3 linked regions of the Homo sapiens genome follow. The protein of the gene in region 1 purifies or fractionates together with the protein of each later gene. This does not show direct contact. Each region holds a gene or a part of one and is shown in the gene's direction. Other genes may lie near its edges.

Region 1 (3,657 bases):
AATTATATTGGTAACTAATTTATGTAAAGCATTCTAAAACATAATATGAAGCTGACTCATCCACCAGCCATGATGAAGGACTTAGGGTATGAGGATTATTACTGCTAGAATCAGGTATTTTTTAAATCGCAACAGGAGAGTTGGCCAAATGCATGGGGTTTCTGAGGAACAGTACTTCTGTTTATTTTGTAAACAGCTTTGTTTCAATCTTCTCTCTTTTTTTTTTTCTAAGTGTGCTGAACCATCAACAAGAAAGAACTTGATGAATTCTCTTGAACAAAAGATAAGGTGTTTGGAAAAACAAAGAAAAGAGGTAACTTAGAAATATTCGCTAAAGCCACAGGTGCCATGGATTAATGCTGAGGATAAAATAATGTATTATCCTTGTGCCTTTTATTTTTGTTATCAGGTCACAGTATTTATCTTTAAGATACTGGACTGCACTATTTTGAAAGCAAACGCCTTCTTTCTTATTCACCTGTATGTTTCATACTTGTTGTCTCAGTGTCTGTGCAGTGACGAATGAAAAACGACAAAGTCATAAGTCTGGTAATATAATCCTAATTTTCTCAAAACTTAGATGTTTCCTCCACACAGACCAAGTTACTTTATCCTTTATGCCTTTATCGTTTGTGCCTTATGACCTTTACCCTTTATGCCTTGCAACTTGACACACCTTGAAACTCAAGGTTTCTTGAGTTACTTGAAAAGTCTTTAAGTATAGTTGATTTAGGTGCTATGACTTCATGAACTGGGCATCCAAACACATGGGAGTTAAAAAGCATTATCATAAATAAAGTTTGTTTCTAAAATGTTCCTGGGAATTAATGGGTATTATTTGGAATTTTATTTTTCTGAGCTTAATGAATGTTAGAACCTCTTTACTCTTCTTGACAGAGGAAGTAGTGAAAAGTATAACAATTTTAGCACTCTGTATATTGTCAATTTTGTAATTCCTTCTTTTTTTTTTTTGAGACAGTGTTGCTCTGTCACCCAGGCTGGAGTGCAGTGGCACGATCTCAGCTCACTGCAGCCTCTGCCTCCAGGGTTCAAGTGATTCTTGTGCCTCAGCCTCCCAAGTAGCTGGGATTACAGGCGTGCACGACCATGCCCAGCTAATATTTGTATCTTTAGTAGAGATGGGGTTTCGCCATTTTGGCCAGCCTGGTCTAGAACTCCTATCCTCAAGTGATCTGCCCACCTCAGCCTCCCAAAGTGCTGGAATTACAGGAGTTAGCCACCGTGCCCAGCCTGTAATTCCTTTTCTAATTCATTCTGTGTACTACATCTTTCATGTTCTCTTGCATGGTGCCTTCTACTCTTCTTTGATACTTGAAGAATATTGTGACCTTCTGGAAAATTATTGAACGATGGCAGAGTAATGTTACTATAGTATACACATGGGAATCCCTAAAATGCCAACAGAGTAACTCTCAATATAATAATATTATACAGTTTCATACTAAATAATGATATGTATTTTCAGCATAAGAGTTACCTAGTAACTGCCACTCTGGATTCAGTAGTTTGCTTTTTAATTAGGAGAAAGTTTTGCTACTTTTTAGTCATTATGACTGTCTTCTCAGTGTCTGTTCCCTATAGATAAGCGTTGGAATTTCTCTTAATGCAGAAAACTACAAACTTCCCCAACAAAAAGCCAACCACATATCATAGCACTTCTTCTGCCTTCTAATTAGCAGATAGTCTTAAGATCTTTAAATTATTTGTAGCCTAAAATGCATCTAAATATTGTCCTATGACGAAACTATAATTTCTTGAAAATCTAAATTTTCAAAATGGTGATATTACCTATTTGTTGAGTATTTATTATAAATCATGTGTTAATCTTTTAAAACACATTATTGCAAGAAAATCGTGATCAGTTAATGGAGCCTAGGCTTTGTTAGCATAAATTCTGCTTTAAAAGAGCTGGAAAAAATATTTCATTATAATCAGTGTAAGCACAAAGAAAAATACGAAAAAGTTTGGGAAAAGAACCTCCATGCATTAAGAAATCTTACAGACAATCATCAATACTTACAAATTTTTATCAGATTGTGGTTGGATTAAACAAAGAAAATGAAAATCCAAATAACTAAAAAAAGTTAAAAGTTACTGATAAACTGTTCAGCTGACTTGTCAAGATATACCTGAGACTTACTGGTTTTTCTTTTCTTTTCTTTTCTTTTTTTTCTTTTCTTTCCATGAGATGGAGTCTCACTCTGTCGCCCAGGATGGAGTGCAGTGGCACAATCTCGGCTCACTGCAACCTCCACCTCCTGGGTTCAAGTGATTCTCCTGCCTCAGCCTCCCCAGTAGCTGGGACTGCAGGTGCATGCCACCACGTCCGGCTAAGTTTTGTATTTTTAGTAGAGACGGGATGTCACCATGTTGGGCAGGCTGGTCACCAACTCTTGACCTCAAGTGATCCCACCTGCCATGGCCTCCCAGAGTGGTGGGATTACAGGCGTGAGCCACCGGACCCAGCCAGTAGTTTTTCATATACGAACCAGTTATAAACAGTGAGAGTGTGTTCAATTTAATCATCCCAGCACAATCAGAACTTGATGGAAAAAAATATTGTCTTCATCCATGGCTTCTAAAACCTTAATAAGCTCAGAAAGTAATTTCTTTTTGACCAAACTTCCAAATGGGCAGAAATTCTTTGTTGATTCACCAAATTTTAATGATTTCAGCTCCTGGAAGTTAACCAGCAATGGGATCAGCAATTTAGAAGTATGAAAGAGTTATATGAAAGAAAGGTAAATACCTCTCTCTATTCGGTATTTTCTTTAAAGCCATTATCCTGGTGGGGCCAATTGTGTGAAGAGTCTCATTCATTTCAGCTACAAAGAGCTTTGTGGATAGCCAACTGTTGGAAAATGACGGGAAGGGTGCTAAGTGTAGTATTGGTCTCATGGCACTGAAAATTAATGAACGGTGTCAGTGAGTTGTCTTGAGCAATAGCTAAAGAAAGGTGCAAAAATGGCCCCCAGTGATGTCTCAAGAGTTCTTGTGCACATTTATCGTGGCTCACAGAGTATCCCAGCCTTACCTTTGTCACTAGAAGCCACAAATACACAAAGTTATATGTGAGGTGAGATATGGTTTAAAGTCCATACTGTTTACGCCAGGTTAGCCCTAATTCTTTAATTAGATAGCATGACCTATTTTCCACAAATAGAGAAACAAATGGTGGTAACAGTGAAAATGTGAGTAAAAATGGAGCAACCTCCTCTTCCATCTAAAGCATATTTGCTCTCAAGAAGCTCTGGTGAGAAAGGGGCTTTTGGAAGAAAACCTCCTTTAATACATAAAAGACAATTTATAATTTAAAATTATTCTATTTTCAAAAAGAGATAAAAAGAGCAAGTACTTTCCCCTAAATAATTCAGTATTAAGAAACTTGACCATGAGTATTGTAATATAGCAGCATTTTTCCTTTCTTCCTCATTTTGTTACCCAGAAGTATTGAATTTAGAAGGTGCAGGATAATGTTCCTGCTGCACCAGGCAATGGTCAGGCAGCCTTGCAATATCCCTGCTGGGGCAATCCGGATCTGTAAATGTTAAAGATGATGATCCCAGAGAGAATGCTTAAGCTGCTTTCTCGAACGGCTTGCAGGTGTGTGAAGACAGTGTTAGTGATGGCTATAAT
Region 2 (3,038 bases), on another chromosome or scaffold:
GATGTGATAAAGCAAACAACAGCATTGTAGAATCTAGGTGGTGGGTATATGGGTGCTCACCTACAGTCCTTTCAACTCATCTGGATGTTAGTGTTTTTTTTTTAATAGAGACAAGGTCTTACTCTGTCACCCAGGCTGGAGTGCAGTGTTGTGATCTTGACTTACTGCAGGCTCACCTCCTGGATTCAAGTGATCCTCCCACCTCAGCTTTCTAAGTAGCTGGGATTACAGGCACATACCACCACACCCAGCTAATTTTTGTATTTTTTGTAGAGACGGGGTTTTGCCATGTTGCCCAGGCAGGTCTCAAACTCCTGGGCTTAAGCAATCCGCTGGCCTTGGCCTCCCAAAGTGCTGGGATTATAGGTGTGTGAGCCACAGCACTTGGCCTGAACATTTTTAAATAAAATGTTGGTAGAGAATGTTTGAAATCATGCAGATGTTACTTTAAAGTACTCCATGTAATAATGATGCTCACCAGAATTTGAGAACCACTGCACATTGGGGCAAGATTAGTTCAGAGGTGTATCAACCTGGGAGTTGTTCTTCAGCTTTTAAAAGTTTCATAGGCCTGGTGTGGTGGCTCATGCCTGTTATCTCTGCATATTGGGAGGCAGAGACAGGCAGATCGCTTGAGCTCGGTAGCCCGGACAACATGGTGAAACTCTGTCTATGCAACAACAACAAAATTAGCTGGGCATGGTGGCGTGCACCTGTAGTCTCAGCTACTTGGAAGGCTTAGGTGGGAGGATCACTTGAGCCCAGGAGGTTGAGGCTGCAGTGAGCCGTGAGTGTGCCAGTGCACTCTAACCTGAGCGATACAGCAAGACCCTGTCTCCAAAAAAAAAAAAAAAAATGCTTTACAGAAAAATTATAAGAAATGAAAATGTTGTTTTTGATTTTTGTCCTGGAAATCTGTCTCTTGACTACATACCTTGTTGCACTACCTTACATGTGAAAACCTTTGGAAACAGAAACACACTGAGCCTGTGTTCAATGTAAAGGCAAAGGCTTTCCACATACTGGCCAAACTTCAGTTTCCTTATCATACAAAATGGGGACAATAAGATTTGCTCCAGAGTCTTTAACACTTGTTATCTCATTATTTAACTTTTGATAAGCTATAATATTTTTATTTCTCTTAATTGCACATAATACATGATAATTACTGAAAGACTCTAAAATACAATCGAAGTGAAAGAAAAATCCCAGTCTCATTTTCCGGCCATATTTAGAGTTAACATTTTATGTTTTCTTCAAGGCATCTTCCCTCATAAAATACACATATAAGTACTTTGTCCTTTTATTTATATATAGAAATGGGATATCATTATGTGGCTTGCTTTTTTCACTTAATATTTTTGAATGTTTAGCCAGTTTAACACATTTATGTACTTTTGAATGGTTGTCTATTTACCATATAGGTGCTCTGTAAAATTTGCTTATCTGATCCCCCATTGTTGGATATTAGGTTGTTTCCTAAATTTTTCTTCTATGAACAGCACTGAGATGAGTCCCCACATACATACATTTGCAAATGTATCTGATGATTTTCTTAGGATAAAATATAAGAAGGGATACGAACTTTTCTTCCAAACTGGGTAGGCCACTGACCTTCAGTGAGGCAAGTTCTCCTGTCTCCCTTTGCAGGATTTCACGCCCCTACCATGTCCTGGCCTGTGGCAGGGACCCTCATGGTGGAGCCCACTGAGTCGGAGGACAAGGCAGAGCTGGACAGATTCTGTGATGCCATGATCAGCATTCGGCAGGAAATTGCTGACATTGAGGAGGGCCGCATCGACCCCAGGGTCAATCCGCTGAAGGTGCGTAGGCCCTGGAACATTGCTTGAAATGTTCCTTAAACTAGAAAATGATGTCTGGACAGTGTACCAGCAACTCCCGAACTCTCAACTGAGGATGATACTCTTCCCTAGAATAAGGTAATTCTTCTGAGAAGATGCAGTTGTTACTTTGAAGTTTCCATCGTCTTGAACAGCATAGCAGTTACTCAAGGATGATGTGGTTGTGGAAGCTGTCCACAGCTGTCTAGTTGGAGAATTTGTAACATTCTGCATCTCTGTTTGATGTACTGTAGTGAGATTATGGCATAAATAAAATTTACATATTCACATCACAAACTCTGTACAAGCACACATTCTTATATTAGAGCAGTTATCTCTGAGAAAACTGGATTGACATTTGGACTGGATGTTACAATGTTTATGCCCCATGTTGGGGAAAAGTTGGTTGGGCATTACTCTGCCGCTTCCAAAACATGTTAATTTTACATCTGGTCAGAGTCCTAAGTTTCTTGTTAGTCCAGATATTAAGCTGGAAGATCAGGAGTGGAGAATACCATGAAGGCTGTGGTTGTGTCTTCATGGCTGTAAGCCAGAGAACAAGTCTGATATGACTGCAGCAGCTGGGGCAGGTTTCCAAACTGCCTACCTGTAGGAGAGGGCAGGGACCAGTGACTTGCAGAAGGCAGGCACCTCTCTAGAGGTGAGTTCACAGAGTCATGGAGGCATACAAGATGATTATGCTTACCACCGTTTATTACTCTTTTCTCTCTGAAGACACCTGCTTCTTTCAGGATTTAGGCTATTTTTTTAAATGGCAATAAACATTTCAAAGAGCATAATAGTGAGTTATAATACAAGTGGATAATACCACTCATATGATGATATCAGATTTTAAAATGAGCCAAATTATGCTATATGCAGTTTATTAACATATGCAGTAATAGTATAAAAGCATGATGAGAATGGTAAACACCGAATTCAGAAGAGTGGTTAGCACTGGGATGGGGATATACAGGCAGCACCAAACGTGTAGGTAATTTTTTCTAAAAGATGAAGCAAATATGACAGAATGCTCATTAGACTTTACTGGGTGGTGGATGTGATGATTATTACCATAACGTTCTGATATTTAAAATATTTCACAATTATAAATCACATTGTACCCCCCTAAATTGAAAGAAAACAACAGCTTTCTCTGCCTGGGCTCCTGTCAGAAGATTGACGGTTGAGGTGCAG
Region 3 (3,657 bases), on another chromosome or scaffold:
AAAATTAGCCTGGCATGGGGGCGGGCGCCTGTAGTCTCAGCTACTTGGGAGGCTGAGGCAGGAGAATCGCTTGAACCCAGGAGGCAGAGGTTGCAGTGAGCCGAGATCACGCCACTGCACTCCAACCTGGATGACAGAGCGAGACTCTGTTTCAAAAAAAGAAAAAAGAGAAATCGAAAAACCCTAAAGTAAGGCTTAGTTTCACTCTAGGAACAGTAAAATTGGAATCTGGCATTATCTGCGCCCTAATTGAATGGCTGAGCTACTCACTAAATTGCCCACATGATAATTCAGATTTTTTTATTCTGGTAAAATATACATAACATAAAATTTACCATCTAATTATTTTAATGGTAAATTAAAATTTACCATCTAATTATTTTAATGGTAAATTAAAATTTACCATCTAATTATTTTAATGGTAAATTAAAATTTACCATCTTAATTATTTTAATTACCATTTATTTAATAATTATTTTAATTATTTACCATTTTTAATTATTTTAGTGTATAATTCAGTGACATTAAGTACATTCACAATATTGTGCAACCATCACCACCCTCTATTTTCAAATGTGTTAATCGTCCCAAACCCATTAAACAGAAACTCCCCACTCTCCTTTTCAGCACCTGCTCGCCTCTCTTCTGCTTCCTGTCTCTGTGAGTTTGGTTATGCTTAGGACTTTTTTTTTTTTTTTTTTGAGACAGGGTTTTGCTCTGTATCCCAGGCTGCAGTGCAGTGGCACAATCTTGGCTCATTGCAACCTCTGCCTTCCGGGTTCTCATGCCTCAGCCTCCCAAGCAGCTGGGATTACAGGTGCCTGCCACAACACCAGCTAATTTTTGTATTTTTAGTAGAGATGTGGCTTCATCATGTTGGTCAGGCTGGTTTCAAACTCCTGACCTCAAGTTATCCACCCACCTCAGCCTCCCAAAATGTTGGGATTATAGGTGTGAGCCACTGTGCCTGGCCTCGGGACTTCTTGTAAGTGGAGTCATGCAGTATCTGTCTTTTTGTGTCTAGTTTATTTCACTTAGCGTAATGTCCTCAGGGTTCATCCATTGTTGTAGCTTCCTTTTTAAGGTGGAATAATAATTCCACTGTATGAGTCCCTGCTTCCGGTTCTTTTGGATATAAACCAGAAAGTGGGTTTATATCCCACTGGATTATATGGTCGTTCTGTGTTTAACTTTTTGAGGAACTCCCAAACTGTTTGCCATAGTGGCTGCACCATTTTACATTCCCACCAACAGTGACTGAGTGTTCAGTTTCCCTACATCCTCAATAAGTATTTTCCTGTTTTTGTTTTTTTTAAGTAGTAGCCACCCTAGGGGATGTAAGGTGGTATCTCATTGTGGTTTTGAGTTGTATTTCCCTAGTGTTTAATTATATTGAGCTTATTTTCATGTCCTTATTGGTCATTTGTATATCTTTGGAAATATCTCCTCAAGTCCATTACCCTTTTTAAATCAACTTATTTGGTTTTGTTATTGTTGTTGAGTTGTAGGAGTTCTGTATTTTCTCTGGGTACTAACCCCTTTTCAAATACATGTTTTGAAATCTGTTCTCCCATTTTGTTGCCTTTTTGCTATCAGTAATGTCCTTCGATGCACAAAAGTTTTAAATTTTTATGCAGTCCAATTTATTTTTTCTTTTATTCCCTGTGCTTTTGGTGGCATGTCTAAGAAATCATTGCCAAACTCAGGTTCATGAAGATTTCACCCTATGTTTTCTTCTAGGAGCTCTACAGTTTTAGCTCTATGAAAACAACTACTTAGGTTCAAACCAAGCCTACCACCCACACACCCACTAACTTCCATGCCTTATCCGCTGTCCCATCACCCCAGCTGGTAGCCAGTCATGTTGGCCTTGTTTCCTCCTGATTCTAAGTGTAAACAATAAAGAAGTCCCCTAGGTTTTGTCTTCACAGTAGACACATCTCTACAACAAGTGCATTTACTGAACGTCCAGATGGCTGGTTTGTGCAGTTGAGCATGTAAGGTCACATGGGGTCAGTCAGCTTTATTCTTCCCTATGAAGTTTTTCCTGTTTGTTTTTCAAAACCCCAGTTGGCCGTTTTTTGACCGCAATAAGTATTTGAATGAGCGTCATGATGGTTTGCAGAAAGCCATTGCCATAGCTAAAGAAATAACTTTAGCTGATCACCTGAGGTCAGGAGTTCAGGACTAGCCTGGCCAACGTGGTGAAACCCTGTCTCTACTAAAAATACAAAAATCAGCCGGGTGTGGTGGCAGGCGCCTGTAATCCCAGCTACTCGGGAGGCTGAGGCAGGAGAATCGCTTGAACCCAGGAGGCGGAGGTTGCAGTGAGCCAAGATCGCACCACTGCACTCCAACCTGGGCAACACAGCGAGACTCCATCTCAAAAAAATAAAAAGAAAGAAAGAACTTGTAGACCATCATTCTCTTCATTTTTGTGGAAAGCACAAAATTCTTTGGCTAAACAGTATTTCTGATAGAAGAAAATCAGTATCTTTTTGTCTGTATTTGACTGGTCATCCTGGCCTCAGGCTGTGAGCCATCGACTGAAATGACACTGACTTTTTGTGGCTGCTGAGATCAACAACTGCTGCTTGTGTCTATTCTAACTCCTCTCCTATTGTGAAACTAAACATATTTGAAAGTCACGTCATCACACGCTGTCCCAGAACTGCCCAAGATGTGAGGAGAAACTAACCTGTTGGCTCTGTTGTTTCCTCAGGTGATCAACTGGGAGAACACGCTCCACATTCCAGCCCAGGTGAAGCTGAGCCCTGAGGCCAGGGACCTCATCACCAAGCTGTGCTGCTCCGCAGACCACCGCCTGGGGCGGAATGGGGCCGATGACCTGAAGGCCCACCCCTTCTTCAGCGCCATTGACTTCTCCAGTGACATCCGGAAGCAGCCAGCCCCCTACGTTCCCACCATCAGCCACCCCATGGACACCTCGAATTTCGACCCCGTAGATGAAGAAAGCCCTTGGAACGATGCCAGCGAAGGTAGCACCAAGGCCTGGGACACACTCACCTCGCCCAATAACAAGCATCCTGAGCACGCATTTTACGAATTCACCTTCCGAAGGTTCTTTGATGACAATGGCTACCCCTTTCGATGCCCAAAGCCTTCAGGAGCAGAAGCTTCACAGGCTGAGAGCTCAGATTTAGAAAGCTCTGATCTGGTGGATCAGACTGAAGGCTGCCAGCCTGTGTACGTGTAGATGGGGGCCAGGCACCCCCACCACTCGCTGCCTCCCAGGTCAGGGTCCCGGAGCCGGTGCCCTCACAGGCCAATAGGGAAGCCGAGGGCTGTTTTGTTTTAAATTAGTCCGTCGATTACTTCACTTGAAATTCTGCTCTTCACCAAGAAAACCCAAACAGGACACTTTTGAAAACAGGACTCAGCATCGCTTTCAATAGGCTTTTCAGGACCTTCACTGCATTAAAACAATATTTTTGAAAATTTAGTACAGTTTAGAAAGAGCACTTATTTTGTTTATATCCATTTTTTCTTACTAAATTATAGGGATTAACTTTGACAAATCATGCTGCTGTTATTTTCTACATTTGTATTTTATCCATAGCACTTATTCACATTTAGGAAAAGACATAAAAACTGAAGAACATTGATGAGAAATCTCTGTGCAATAATGTAAAAAAA

Evidence for each region.
Region 2: the proteins of TNIP3 (region 1) and GLDC purify together in Homo sapiens (co-immunoprecipitation; one large-scale study listed by IntAct). This does not show direct contact.
Region 3: the proteins of TNIP3 (region 1) and LATS2 purify together in Homo sapiens (affinity purification with western blotting; one study listed by BioGRID). This does not show direct contact.

Annotation. Positions count from the first base shown.
Region 1 is NC_000004.12:121,157,792-121,161,448, reverse strand, and holds part of TNIP3 (TNFAIP3-interacting protein 3), read left to right. Parts: intron 1-232; coding exon 233-313; intron 314-2,696; coding exon 2,697-2,762; intron 2,763-3,657. UniProt on the Homo sapiens protein: Binds to zinc finger protein TNFAIP3 and inhibits NF-kappa-B activation induced by tumor necrosis factor, Toll-like receptor 4 (TLR4), interleukin-1 and 12-O-tetradecanoylphorbol-13-acetate.
Region 2 is NC_000009.12:6,534,849-6,537,886, reverse strand, and holds part of GLDC (glycine dehydrogenase (decarboxylating), mitochondrial precursor), read left to right. Parts: intron 1-1,650; coding exon 1,651-1,823; intron 1,824-3,038. UniProt on the Homo sapiens protein: The glycine cleavage system catalyzes the degradation of glycine.
Region 3 is NC_000013.11:20,974,430-20,978,086, reverse strand, and holds part of LATS2 (serine/threonine-protein kinase LATS2), read left to right. Parts: intron 1-2,722; coding exon 2,723-3,217; 3' UTR 3,218-3,657. UniProt on the Homo sapiens protein: Negative regulator of YAP1 in the Hippo signaling pathway that plays a pivotal role in organ size control and tumor suppression by restricting proliferation and promoting apoptosis.